4 linked regions of the Homo sapiens genome follow. The protein of the gene in region 3 purifies or fractionates together with the protein of the main gene of each other region. This does not show direct contact. Each region holds a gene or a part of one and is shown on either strand. Other genes may lie near its edges.

What was found. Proteins that work in one complex are often made in the same cells at the same time.
Region 1: the proteins of ARL6IP6 (region 3) and BLVRB purify together in Homo sapiens (affinity purification with mass spectrometry; 2 studies listed by BioGRID and IntAct, with this or other methods). This does not show direct contact.
Region 2: the proteins of ARL6IP6 (region 3) and SLC43A3 purify together in Homo sapiens (affinity purification with mass spectrometry; one large-scale study listed by BioGRID and IntAct). This does not show direct contact.
Region 4: the proteins of ARL6IP6 (region 3) and ESYT2 purify together in Homo sapiens (affinity purification with mass spectrometry; one large-scale study listed by BioGRID and IntAct). This does not show direct contact.

The regions. Positions count from the first base shown.
Region 1 is NC_000019.10:40,448,746-40,452,245, forward strand, and holds part of BLVRB (flavin reductase (NADPH)), read right to left. Parts: intron 2,748-3,500; coding exon 2,619-2,747; intron 1-2,618. UniProt on the Homo sapiens protein: Enzyme that can both act as a NAD(P)H-dependent reductase and a S-nitroso-CoA-dependent nitrosyltransferase. Promotes fetal heme degradation during development.
Region 2 is NC_000011.10:57,424,322-57,428,308, forward strand, and holds the start of SLC43A3 (equilibrative nucleobase transporter 1), read right to left. Parts: upstream 2,801-3,987; 5' UTR 2,741-2,800; exon of another isoform or gene 2,565-2,740; intron 2,332-2,564; 5' UTR 2,267-2,331; intron 2,069-2,266; exon of another isoform or gene 2,032-2,068; 5' UTR 1,852-2,031; coding exon 1,668-1,851; intron 1,389-1,667; coding exon of another isoform or gene 1,350-1,388; coding exon 1,220-1,349; intron 1-1,219. UniProt on the Homo sapiens protein: Sodium-independent purine-selective nucleobase transporter which mediates the equilibrative transport of extracellular purine nucleobases such as adenine, guanine and hypoxanthine.
Region 3 is NC_000002.12:152,725,120-152,728,619, reverse strand, and holds part of ARL6IP6 (ADP-ribosylation factor-like protein 6-interacting protein 6), read right to left. Parts: intron 1-3,500.
Region 4 is NC_000007.14:158,733,004-158,735,509, forward strand, and holds part of ESYT2 (extended synaptotagmin-2), read right to left. Parts: coding exon 2,500-2,506; intron 1,469-2,499; coding exon 1,419-1,468; intron 1,250-1,418; coding exon 1,204-1,249; 3' UTR 1-1,203. UniProt on the Homo sapiens protein: Tethers the endoplasmic reticulum to the cell membrane and promotes the formation of appositions between the endoplasmic reticulum and the cell membrane. Binds glycerophospholipids in a barrel-like domain and may play a role in cellular lipid transport.

The DNA.
Region 1 (3,500 bases), on a different chromosome or scaffold from region 3:
TATGGAACACACACCCTTGGCTGTGTGTTTGCTTGGGACAAAGCAGACAGGAAGCTCCTGCCCTGGCTGGGCACAGTGGCTCACGCCTGTAATCTCAGCACTTCGGGAGGCCAAGGTGGGAGGATCACTTGAGCTCAGGAGTTTGAGACCAGCCAACATGGCAAAACCACATCTCTACAAAAAATGCAAAAATTCGCTGAGTGTGGTGGCTTATGCCTGTAGTCCCAGCTACTTGGGCAGGAGAATCACTTGAGCCCAGAAGGCGGAGGTTGCAGTGAGCCAAGATTGTGCCATTGCGCTCCAGCCTGGGCTACAGAGGGAGACCCTGTCTCAAAAAAAAAAAAGGAACACACACCTTCACCCATGTGGCATTCCTGCCCAACATGTTTAATCTGAATCTGTGACAAAACAGCTAGAAAAATCCAGAATGTGGGCCTTTAAAGTCACCTGGCCTGGTTAATGTTATGAGAAACTTAAAGAAAAAGGGCAGAGTGGGTTGAATTTTTTTTTTTCTTTTTTGGATAGAGTCTTGCTCTGTCACCCAGGCTGGAGTACAGTGGTGCAATCTTGGCTCACTGCAACCTCCACCTCCCAGGTTCAAGCAATTCTTGTGCCTCAGCCTCCCGAGTATCTGGGATTACAGGTGTCCGCCACCACACCTGGCTAATTTTTGTATTTTTAGTAGAGACGGGGTCTCACCACGTTGGCCAGGCTGGTTTTGAACTCCTGACCTCAAGAGATCCACCCGCCTCAGCCTCCCAAAGTGCTGGGATTACAGATGTGAGCCACCACGCTGGCCTGACAGTTGGGGAAATTTTACTACGGAGTGGATACTAAATGATATGACAGAGTAAATGTCACTTTCCTTAGGTGTGAGCATGTTTTGTGTGCAAATATCTTTCTTTTAGGAGATGGCTGTCTAGGTATTTAGGAGTTAAGTGCGACAATGTTGCAATTCCTCTCAAATGATTAAGCCAAATATACATATGCATATATGTTTTCACAATATATTCAGCAAAATCTAACTATATATTCATGGAGAGAGAGAGAGGAGGAGAGAGGGAGAGACAACAGGATAAAATGCTAAGCATTGAACCTAAACAAAGGGCTTATGTGTATTCATAAACCTTTAATGCTTTCAAATCGGGAGGTGTGGAAGTTTTCACACACTTGGCTGGGCGTGGTGGCTCACGCCTGTAATCCCAGCACTTTGGGAGGCCAAGGTGGGCAGATCACGAGGTCAAGAGATCGAGACCATCTTGGCCAATATGGTGAAACCCCGTCTCTACTAAAAATACAAAAATTAGCTGGGCGTGGTGGCACGCGCCTGTAGTCCCAGCTATTCGGGGGGCTGAGGCAGGAGAATCACTTGAACCCAGGAGGCAAAAGGTTGCAGTGAGCCAAGATCGCACCACTGTACTCCAGCCTGGCGGCAGAGCAAGACTCTGTCTCAAAAAAAAAAAAAAAAAAAAAAAAAAAGCCAGGCGCAGTGGCTCACGCCTGTAATCCCAGCACTTTGGGAGGCCGAGGCGGGCGGATCACAAGGTCAGGAGATTGAGACCATCCTGGCTAACACTGTGAAACCCCGTCTGTATTAAAAAATACAAAAAATTAGCCAGGTGTGGTGGCGGGCGCCTGTAGTCCCAGCTACTCGGGAGGCTGGGCAGGAGAATGGGGTTTCACCATGTTAGCCAGGATGGTCTCGATCTCCTGACCTTGTGATCTGCCCGCCTCGGCCTCTCAAAGTGCTGGGATTACAGGCGTGAGCCACCGCACCCGGCCATTAATATCTATCTTTTCTTGTCTTTTTCTTTTTTTTTTTAGACAGGGTCTCACTCTATTACCCAGGCTGGAGTACAGCAGCCTGGGCAACAGTTTATTGCAGCCTTGATCTCCTGGGCTCAAGCCATCCTCCCGCCTCCCAGTAGCTGGGACCACAGGTGTGTGCCACGACGCCCAGCTAATTTTTTTTTTTTTTTGTAGAGATAAGTCTATGTTGCCCAGGCTGGTCTCAAACTCCTGGGCTGAAGAAATCCTCCCGTCTTGGCTTCCCAAAGTGATGAGATTACAGGTGTGAACCACCATGCCTGGCCTATGTATCTATCTATCTATCTATCTATCTATCTATCTATCTATCTATCTATCTAATCTCTATCTCCCATACTAGAAATGTAAGCCATGGCGGGGCATGGTGATGCAGGCCTGTAATCCCAGCTACTCAGGAGGCTGAAGCCCCAGAATCCATAGACATAATGGATTAAACCATTAGCCAGTGGTAATCCCCTCAACCTTCAATCCCTCACCACTCCCCAGAGGTGAAAGTCCCAACCCTGTAATCCAGCCTTAGTCTTTCTGGTGACCAGACCTGAAGCTGCCTAGGGGCTGCCAGCTCTCAGTGAACTCATTAGCATAGAAAAAGACATTTACCATTTTGGAGATTCCAAGGATTTTAGGAGTTGTATGCCAGGAAACAGGGACAAAGGCCAAATATATATGTCACAATATCATAGGAAGGTTTGCAATTTTAGGGTGGTCAGGGAAGGCCTTGCAGATCTCCCCAGAGGGCAGGAGGGAACAGGCAGATGGCATTGGTGCCACCAGGTCCCTGCCCTGCTTACCTATGTGTGGCGGCATCACAGCCACGTACTTCAGGCCTGATTCCCGCAGCACCTTGTGCATCCGGATGTGGTCATCAGTCACAGCCTGCAGTCGTGGGGGCACCTTGGTAGGGTCCCAGAGCAGGAAAGCTGGAGGGAACACAGGGCAGGATCAGCCTGGGCTCTCTTGTCTTTTTTTTTTTTTTTTTGAGACAGAGTGTCGCTTTGTCACCCAGGCTGAGTGCAGTGGCGCAATCTCGGCTCACTGCAACCTCTGCCTCCCGGGTTCAAGCAATTCTCCTGCCTCAGCCTCCCCAGTAGCTGGGATTACAGGTGCACACCACCAGGCCTGACTAATTTTTGTATTTTTAGTACAGACAGGGTTTTGCCATGTTGGCCAGGCTGGTCTCAAACTCCTGACCTCAGGTGATCCACCCTCCTCCACCTCCCAAAGTGCTGGAATTACAGGCATGAGCCATTGTGCCCAGCCAAGGGCTCGCTTGTCTTGATGCCAGGACAAAACCCTGCCATGGCTGACCATTGCTTTCCAGTTGCAAAAACAGGGGAGTCCTCTGGGGCTCCTCTTTCCCTCACACCCCAGGTAAGAGCTGTCTGCTGATCACAATAATTCCAAATCTGACCTCTTCTCACTCCGCCTGGTCCTGTCCACTGTTACCTCTTGCCTGGACCAGCCCAGCAGCCTACTCCCTGGTCTCTCAGCCCCTCCTTCCCTCCTCCCAAGGAGCCCGTGAACACCCCTATCAGTTCACATCCATAGCTCCATCTCACTCAGGGTAGAAGCAAAGTCCCCATGGCCAGCCCTCAAGGCCCCACCTGATATGGCCCCATCAGCCCTCTGACGTCCTTGCCTACTCTGCCTACCACTCTCTCTTACACGCCTCT
Region 2 (3,987 bases), on a different chromosome or scaffold from region 3:
GACTTAGCCAGGACAGAATGGGCAAAGCGAAGGTCCTCCCACCTGGAAGCCCCAACAGCCCAACCCCTTGGAGAAAGGGGTTAGTGCCTGGTCTGCAAATCAAGGCCTTGAGTTCTAACTCCTCCTCACTCTGTGACCTTGGGCAAGGCGCTGTCCTTCTCTGGGCCTCAGGAGCCTTTTCTATAAAAAGAAATGATCGGACTGATCTAGCTCAGAGTGCTATGATTTCAGGACTACAGTCCCAAGGTTATCAGGCTCCCTTAGCATTTGGGGGTCTTGTAAGGCATGGAGTAAAAAAAAAAAAGCAATATCCTAAGGCTGGAGAAGAGGGAGGGGACAAAGGAAGGGGAGGAAAGGGGAGGTAGCAGGGAGCCAAGGACCAAGAAGGACTGAGGTACAGTCATTCTGCATCCAAAGGCTTAAATTGTAAGGGACTGGCTTTACTCTGGCTGTTTCCGGAAAGGCAGGCCCAGCCAGCCCTCCCGTCTCTCTCTCTGACAGCCAATCTCACATGTGCCTCCCTGGGAGCACCTGCTCTGAGCTGTATCAGCCCCCAGCAGGCCGCTGATTACCACTGAGCCTGGCCACAGAGCACGAGATTAGGATGCAGCAACACACTGTGTGTGAGATCACGTCCCGAACCTTCTGACTCATCTGCACAGGAAACCCCCCCAGTCTCCCCTCCAGTCAGAAGGGACCTGAAATTCCACCAGTGGCAATACCAAAGAAACTTCCTATTAGCTAAGCCCCTAGGGAGTGATTGGCTGTTGGGGCGGGGAGGGGGGGCGGTGAGGAGGATGAGGATGAAGCCTGGGCAACCTGGATGTGAGGCTGTGCAGGGGATGAGGACAAGGATCCTTGGGGTGAAGGAAGAGAAGAGCAATTTTAGGTTTTGCTAATTTTGTAACCCTGGCTCCAAGCCAGCCCTTACAGGAAGTCACCCTGGCCTCCGGCTCAATTCAGCACGTGATAGGGAAGCCACATTTATGCAGAGCAGGGAACGAGGTAAGGAAATGGAAGTGGGGCTGTGGTGAAGTGGGCAAGTCTAGAGAGAGTCCCGCTGCCTGGGGCTGTTCCTAACAGCTGCTGGGAGCGAGCTGCAGGTGTGGTGCCTGGCAGGGTGGCCGGGCTGTCTGACTCTGGATTTCACTCCAAGCTAGGCTGCTGCCTGAAGGATTCCTCTTACCCACCTTTGCCTGGGCTGGCCTTTGGGACTTACATGGCTATGAGGCGTGCCACGGTGGTCTTGAACCGGTCAAAGATGTAGCCAGTGGGGAATGTCATGAAGTTGTTCATGAAGGACCCCAGGGTGAAGATGAGTGAGAACCTCTCATCCTGGGCTTTGCAGTCTGGAGTAGAAAAAAGGTCTCCCATGCATCCCAGCCTTCCTGCCAAATGAGCACACAGGCTGGGCTCCCCTCCACCTCAGACAGCTTGTCGGTCGCAAACTTGTCCCTTAAGCTGAGTTGAAATGTGGCTGCCCCTAATTACCCCTCAGGAGCTGGTGCCTCCCTCCCAGGCACTTCCCAGATCAAGTGGGGTGAGAGCTGCTGACCCTTCCTCTCATCATAGAAAGAGGGGTGGGCAGGGGGCAGAGTCCTTCCTGCTCCTTGCCACCACGTGGGAGCCAGACTTAACTTCCTTAGAAAAGTCATCCCTGCCCTTACCAGCCTGCCCTGTGGCATTGCCAATCGGCCCAGCATCTGGTCCACACAGATCCTTAAAGTAATCTTCATTCTTGAAGACAAACACTAGTGAAGGCCAGCCAAAGAGGACGCCAGCAAAGCCCAGGCATTCCAGCAGCCCAGTCAGCAGTGTGGCCACGTGCAGGGGCAGGCCCTGGCCCGCCATGAGCAGAAGTGGAGTGGATCTTCAAATCCCACTTTGTCCTCCTGGACGGATCACAGGCGCCGTAAGCCTGGCGTTTGAGCACTTGGAAAATTCCTCTGGCAAGCCAAGCCCTTCCTTTCCCGTAGCTCTCTGGTTGTTTCAGGCCTGGGCAAAAACCATCAGCGGGTGATTCTCTGGATCCTGTAGAATAAAGATAGAGGCTGCTGGAAGAGGAGGCCTGCGGGAAAGGGAAAGGTAGACTAGAGTTATTTGTGAGGTGCATTAAGAGGCAGGATGATCATGGCCGCTGGCAGCAAATGTGGGGAATAAATACTCCAATACATCATCTTAGGCACTGCATTTGAGTAACCACGTGGCAAGTAGAGAGGCAGGTCTTGATGGCCACCTGGAGTCACAGGTGAGATAAACGACTTACCCAATAGCTCCCCGGGAGCAGGTGGAGAAGCGGAGCTCCTGCGCTCGAATTCTGAATACCGTCCCCTAAAATAATGACAGCAACTCAACCAGGTGCAGAGGCAGGGAGATTTCATACAGAAGACACAAACTCCCGCTGCCAAGTTGGTGTTATCTTCAGTTTACTGACAATGAAACAAAAGCTCCCATGGATTTCAGGAACTTGCCCAAGGTCACAGGGCTAGTTTAGTCACGACGCAGGCCATTCTACTGCCAGAAATACCCCCAACTCCCATGACCCTCGCCTAGGACTCGCAAACCTGGTCCCCGCCGCCCTTCCTCGCATCAACTTCTACCAGGAAAGCCTCCGGGGGCCGCTCCCCGCCAGCCTCCGCACCCCGCTCCAGCCTGCGGCCTGCCCTCCCCGCAGAGGAGCCCGAGGGGCCAGGCCGCGCTCGGCGCCCCATGGCGCCCGAAAGGGGACCCTTCGCCCTACCCGCCTGCTCCGCGCCGGGGCTCTCCGCGCCCTTTCCGCACGGGCCAGGTTCGCATTCGCGCCTCTCGCAGCCCCTCCCAGTCCCCTGCTCGCCTCCGCCCCCTCCTGCCCGCCCGGAAGGGGCTGGGGCAGACCTCCCACTCTCCATCACTTCCTTCTTCTTTTCCCTTGCTCACAGCCTCCCGCGCCCTTTTTACCTCTCCCTCTTGAAACTTCTCCCTCTAGAACCCCCTAGAACCCCAGCGGTGTCTTTCCCTCCCTCCTCGCTGCCTTTCAGCCTCCCAGCCCCCTTGCCTCTGCCTCCCCTAACCAAGTTAGTTGAATGCTGTTACTCGCTCAGGCCCACCTAGGGAAAATGTCACACCCAGCACCCAGAGGACACACAGACAGCACATGAGGGCATAGGGACACACACACTCTATTTGTGCATTTTGCCTTGACCGCTGGGTTGGCAGGGAACATATTTTTCCTATTTGCTCACCAGCTTAACCGTCTCTCCCAGTTTCACACTCCCAGAGCTGCCAAAAAAATCCCAACCACAGAATCAGGAAGCCAAGAACCAGGACTGAGGGCTTTTCAGAAACCATCCCCTGGAGGACTGCCCCATATTTTCACTCCCAAAAACCCCTTAGATGACTCCCTGCCTCACCCCCGCCCCCCAGGTTCTGAAAGAGCCTTCCCGCCAGACTGCATTGATTAACCATTCATTGCCCCATTTTTTATTAATCAAAGACATATATAATTGCTCATCGGAGCTTGTGATCAGCGTGAGGCCTTACTAAGCAGCTGCCTTACTATCCTTCCAGCCCAGAGCACGTGAGCTGACGTCTTCTTTGGCCTGTGTGGCCGTTTCCTTGCCAAAAGCTCAGTTTGGGGAGAGCTTCTTGCGTATTAGATGCAGTCTGCAGACTCCCAACCCCAGCTACCTGGATCCCCTGAGGGCCCAGGAACTCCAGCTATTCCAAGCCCACTCCTCTTTTTTTTAAGAGGAAGAAATAGAGGTTACGATAGGGGACAGCCAGAACTGAGGATTTTCCAGCTCACCACCAAAGCACAAAAGATAAAAGTCTGCAACCACCCTAGTGACTTGACTGAATGGAGGAAGGGTGGCTGGGGTCCTGTACCCCAAGCTACTCACTAGTTATACAACCTGAGGCAAGCTCTTTGGCTGCCCCACCTGTAAGACGAGGACAATAGTACCTTAATTATAGGAATTGTCATAAAAGAAGTATAAGATGGGTGTATGA
Region 3 (3,500 bases):
TCAAAATAAGCCATTCTGGTGTCAGGGAGCAGTTACTCTTCTAAAAATATGCTGGCAACTTTATTTCTATAAAACCTTCCAGCAAAAGAGGCTGTTATATGCTCTAAATATTTTCATTTTGTTTAACAGTTTTAGCTTACGGGGATGAGGCAACTTTCAAGAAGTTTTATGAAGTCAGACACAGAGGCACCAATTTACACATATTATATATAATCAGAATACACCAGAAAAAAACAAAACTCTCATGGTTCCTATACTAGGGAAAGGTTTCCTATTAAATAAGTGTTAGGCAATCAATTGCACACACTTCATAAAACTTCATAAGTAAACAATGGGATTAAACGTGACTGTATACTAGTAATTTCCAAGTCCTGGGTAAGAGATTCTGACATTTGAAATGTTTAAATAAACTGGTATACTTATATTATGAAATACAATGCAGTCATGAAAAAATGAGGTAGACCTATGTATACTAATACAGAATATACTCCAAAAGGCACTTTAACAAGGCTGCAAAATATACATGATTCCAATTATATTTTTCCTATAACAGTGAAAAAAACATGTATTTTAAATGACTATACATATGTAAACAAAGAGAAAAAGATGTAAAAAGACACACAGGTAGATCGGTGAAAGCCTTTGCTTTAATTGTTGGAATCTTTCCTGGTGAGATTAAATTACTTACGTAACTAATGCATTTTATGATACTAACAATGAAAATACAATACAATCATACACTGATGACAGGGATATGTTCTGAGAAATGCATCATTAGGTGATTTCGTTGTTGTTTGTACATCACAAGAGCGTACTTACAAAAACCTAGGTATATAGCCTACTACACACCTATGAGCTATACAGTTATATCCTATTATTCCAATGCTACAGACCTGTGCGGCATGTTACTATACCAAATACTGCACGCGACTGTAATACAACAATAAGTACTTGTGTATCTGAACATACTTAAATATAGAAAAGGTACAGTAAAAATACAGTGTAAAAGATAAAATATGGTACACCTGTATAGGGTACTTACAATGAATGGAGCTTACAGGACAAAGAGTTGCTCTGGGTCAATCAGTGAGCGAGTGACTGATGAGTGAAGGTGAAGGCCAAGGACACTACTGTCCACTACAATAGACTATTATAAACACTGTACACTTAGGTTACGCTAAATTAAAAAATTTTTCTCTTCATTAATAAATTAACCTTAGCTTACTGTAACTTTCTTACTTTATAAATTTTAAAATTTAACTTTACCCTTTTCTACTAACAGTTTAAAACAAAAGGACACTGTACAGCTGTGCAAAAATGTTTTTTCTTTATACCATTACTCTATAAGCTTCTATTTCTAATTTTTTAGTTTTTAAACTTCTTTGTTGAAATCTAAGACACACACACATTAGCCTAGGCCTACATAGGGTCAAGGTAATATCACTGTTTTTCACTGTCACATCTTTTTCCACTGAAAGGTCTTCAAGGGCAACAACATGCATGAAACTGTCATCTCCTATGACAACAATGCCTTCTTCTGGGATACCTCCTGAAGGACCTGCCTGAGGCTGTTTTACAGTCAACTTTTTTTAAGCAGAAGTAATATAATCTAAAACAATAAGAAGCATAGTAAATACATAAACCAGTAACATAATTGTTTATCAAGAATTATGTTATGTACTGCACGTAATTGTGCTGTATTTTTTTTTATGACTGGAAGGTTATATAAAACTAGATTGGTAATAGGTTGGTTTATACCAGCATCAACACCAACATGTGAGCAATATATTGTACTACCAAGTTAGGACAGTTGCAATGCCACTAAATAGGAATTTTTCAGCTCCACTGTAATCTTATGGGACCACCATCATACAGGCATATATGCAGACCACTGTTGACCAAAATGGTATGTGGTGTATGGCTGTACTTAGCTAACTTTAAAAGTTGTAAAAACTATTACCAGCTGGCTACTAATAAAACTTAGATGTATCATATGCATGAAACTAACCATCAATTTTTAAATGTTTATGTAAGCAAATGTTCTCAACTTTATTAGATTCTATAGTTTTCTAACTTGAGAGGATGACCATTATTTTAAATAATTTGGTATCCTCTCTAAATCACATTCTATAGATAGCTCAAGTCTTTAAATCCCTAGAGCAAAGTGTCTCTTTACACGTCAAAGCCAAGTGCAGGAGCAGAGGAAAGTGCTCTCTCCTCTCCTGCCAATGCAACATGAGCATAGTGGGTGCAGAGTGCATGGTAGCTATAGCAGTTACACTGGTTAAGGCCTTCACCCAATCGCCCGACCACCTGCAACCCAGACTGTAGCATTTCTACATCTTTCTGTTGAAACAGATGAGGAAGGTGATCCTCTGACAGATTAAGTGACTGAAATTTCAAAAATAAATAACACCTGTAGTTCCCAACATTGGTAAATCATTAGATTCACATGGGAAAATTAAAAAAAAAACCCAACACTTTTATTACAGATCATTTCAAACACAGGAAAAAGTTGAGAGAAGTATATAAAACTCATATACCCATCATCCAGCTTTAAACAATTAATTCATGGGCAATCCTGTTAAATTTATATTCTCCTCTGAAGCTTGTAATCTTCAGTATAACAGGGAAAACAGTCATCAATATTTTTATCATATAAGTCCAAAGAGGCTTTTTTATTTCCTTTATTTTCATGACACTTGAAGAATAATTTAGAGAGCAAAAAGACAGCAGGAAAAAAACTTTGTTAAAAATTTTCATAAGAAATAAATACAGCAAATCCGAATTTCAATTCCCAGTTTCCCTAAAGTCATGTACACCAAAAATGGGCACGACCTGAGTGCAAATAATTGCTTACTAACTTCATGTATGAATCTACAACATATCCATCTTGTAAATACCACTTCCAGATTTCAGATACATCTCAAATTGGTTACAGCTTGTCATTATTCCTGCTTTTTTTTTTTGCACTTGCGTCATTAAAACACAATGTTTGAAGGAATTTTTAAGCCTTTCATGGCTTATTTTGACGAAAAGAGGACAACAATCTTCTTTGCTCCATAATTTGTAACATATTTTCATTTTTAGATTACAAACAATTCAAATGGTCAACCCAATAATTCTTTTTTGCATTTTTTTTTCCAAATCACCTTTGTATACACATCTGCCCTTAGCATCTGTCCACTTACAAACAGTATCAAATAAATTAGGATGCAGACCTCATAAAAGATGAAAAAAATACTTAAAGTCTTAGGAAAGTCTTACTGGAATCCTAATTCCATCATAATTATTTTATTCTTTCGACCATAGTTGAGAATTGATGAGTAATACTAAAATAATGAAATAGGAGAATGTTTTGAGAAAGAACAATATGTGACCACTAAAATCCCAAAACGTATTTCAAAATTAAAAAATGTCCAATAGACCAATGTGGTAATTTCAAGATCAAATAAACTTTATGAGAAATATAGCTCAGTTTTCTTTATTCTTTTGAAGAT
Region 4 (2,506 bases), on a different chromosome or scaffold from region 3:
AAAAATTGCATAACAATATCCCAATATTAAGGTCAGTCATGGCATAAAGTGAGGCAGCCTGGGAAGTGGCTGCTGAGAACAGCAGGGGCCGGGCTCGCAGCTGTGGCGCCCCCAACCCTGGTGGTGGCCAGTGCACATCGGCTCAAAGGTCCCACATCCTATGTGTGAGGTCACACTGGGGGTTCCTGACAATAATGAGATCGAGCTTTCAATTTTTAATGCAATATCCTGTCTACTCACTCCAATCTACCTCACAACCTTTAAAAGGACAACGTGTACCTTCCTTTTTTTATAGGCTGGGAAAACATTGAAAATTAACAAAGCTCATGACTGATTGTTTGACAACAGCTTAATTGCTAACATTGAAAGTCTGCTCTTACAGTTGAGGAAAAGTACAAGGTGTCTGTATACTGTTTCATGAGTAAGTTACAACAGCAATTAAAATAAACATAAGACACTTCATTTTTATGTAAGAAATTTCAGATTAGCATAATGTGATTTATGAACCATGACAATTCTCTTAATATATTACTCAGTTATAAAACATTTTTCCTTATAAGCCCTTCAACTTACTTCTCAATAATACATCCTTATATTTATGAAAATGTTAATATTTTGAATACTTTATTTCATCTTTCATAATGGGCAGAAACATACTAGCATTTAATAATATTTCAGCTTTTCTTTTCAAAAAGAAACACCACAAAATAGGTCACTGAGAACTTTTTGCTGCCAAGATGAAAATGATTATTTGTCACACGAATTTAATAAGTTTTAGAAGAAAATATATATATTTCCTTGATCTATTTCCTTCTGAATTTAAACCAGCATGTAAAGATTATAAAAAATAGTCTATTTACATGGCATAGTATACCTCAGTGATATATAAACAAGGCCATAATAAAGCACAGACACATCCGACTCCTACGGACACAGCTGAGCAGAGTCCACAGACACAAGAGCTACCGCCGCCCTACTGCACGTTGTAGGAACTGGCGAAATCCTAGAGGAAATCCAACACAGAAAATTCAATGATAATATTGGCCAAATTTGCCTGAAATGTCAACAATTTTATAAAACTATTAAGGTATGTATAACTAAATCCATGAAATTATAAAAATAACATTGGTACGTCTGTGAGAGGGTGTGTTCCGGGTAGAGGTGGAGAGCTACGCTGAAGAGGACGCCTCCTGCCTGCTGCGGCTATGTCATCGCCTGAGGCCTCGTCCCATCTTCCGTGAGGTCATACCTGAGAAAGACAGTGACAGGAAGGTGGTGACGGATACAGGACCAAGTAGGAAAAGCCTATCAGATACGTGTCGGGTTCCACCACTGTCTGTGGGGGACACTACCCACTGGGCGGGGAAAGCGTTTTTAGCTACACACTGGGGTTCTCTGTCTGCAGCAGGGACACTCACCACTGGGTCCAGCCTTTGGCAAGTTCTTCAGATGCCAGAGCAACCAATACCTGTGGGTTGTTAAAAAAGCAGTTAAAGTAGGCTGGGCTGGGGGCACTGGCTCCCGTCTGTAATCCCAGCACTTTGGGAGGCCAAGATGGGAGGATCTCTTAAGCCCAAGAGTTTGAGACCAGCCTGGGCAAGATAGTGAAACCTTGTCTCTATTAAAAGTAAAACAAATTTATCTGGGCGTGCTGACACGCACCTTGGTCCCAGCAACTCGGGAGGCTGAGACAGCAATTGCTGGAGCCCAGGCATTTGAAGCTGCAGTGAGCCATGATCGCGCCACTGGACTTCAGCCTGTGCTTCTACAGACCCTGTCTCTAAATAAATAAACAAATACATAAAGTAGGCTAAGACAATGTCTTTTAGATCTTTTACCACTTCTTCTCATCTCTCTAATCTTCTGTCTTCATCTAGGAATATGGACTCTCCCTTTTCTGAAGGCTCTTACTTTTTCAATCTTTTCTACCCCCCTGAGCACCTGTAAGCTACATCGCTGAATACATCTAAGAAATCCTTCATGCAACCAGCAGTCTTAAAATTCAGCTATGACGGAATATCAGCGGAGATGACTCACAGAAGGGTTGGCCCATGTGCCCTCCATGGCAGCACAGCTGACGAAATGATGCCCGTGACTCAAATCTCTTCCTCCCCAACTGAACCTACTCTCATTCCTAAATAACATACACTCACATGCCAAAGTGAAATGTGAAATACGGACAAAGAGTAGAAGAAATTCACATAAATAAAGCCAAAGAATTTTAGAAAAAGAGCAGAGCCATCAGTTGAGGAGATGGAATTGTAAGAGATTATTTTCCTTCAATGTGATACTTGAACAAAAATGTGAAGACTTAACTTAAAATATCTTCAGAAAGCACAGATGTTTTGACTGTCTTTATAGCCCATGATTTATAAACAAGCATCGACCTCGTAAGTTCGCCCCTTCCACTTACACAGACATGGTCTAAACACTGCACTGCAGGTAAATGTTCAATTTTACAAACTGCAGGAACTGGTTGAGGATTCGTTTGGCACTTACTTTGCCA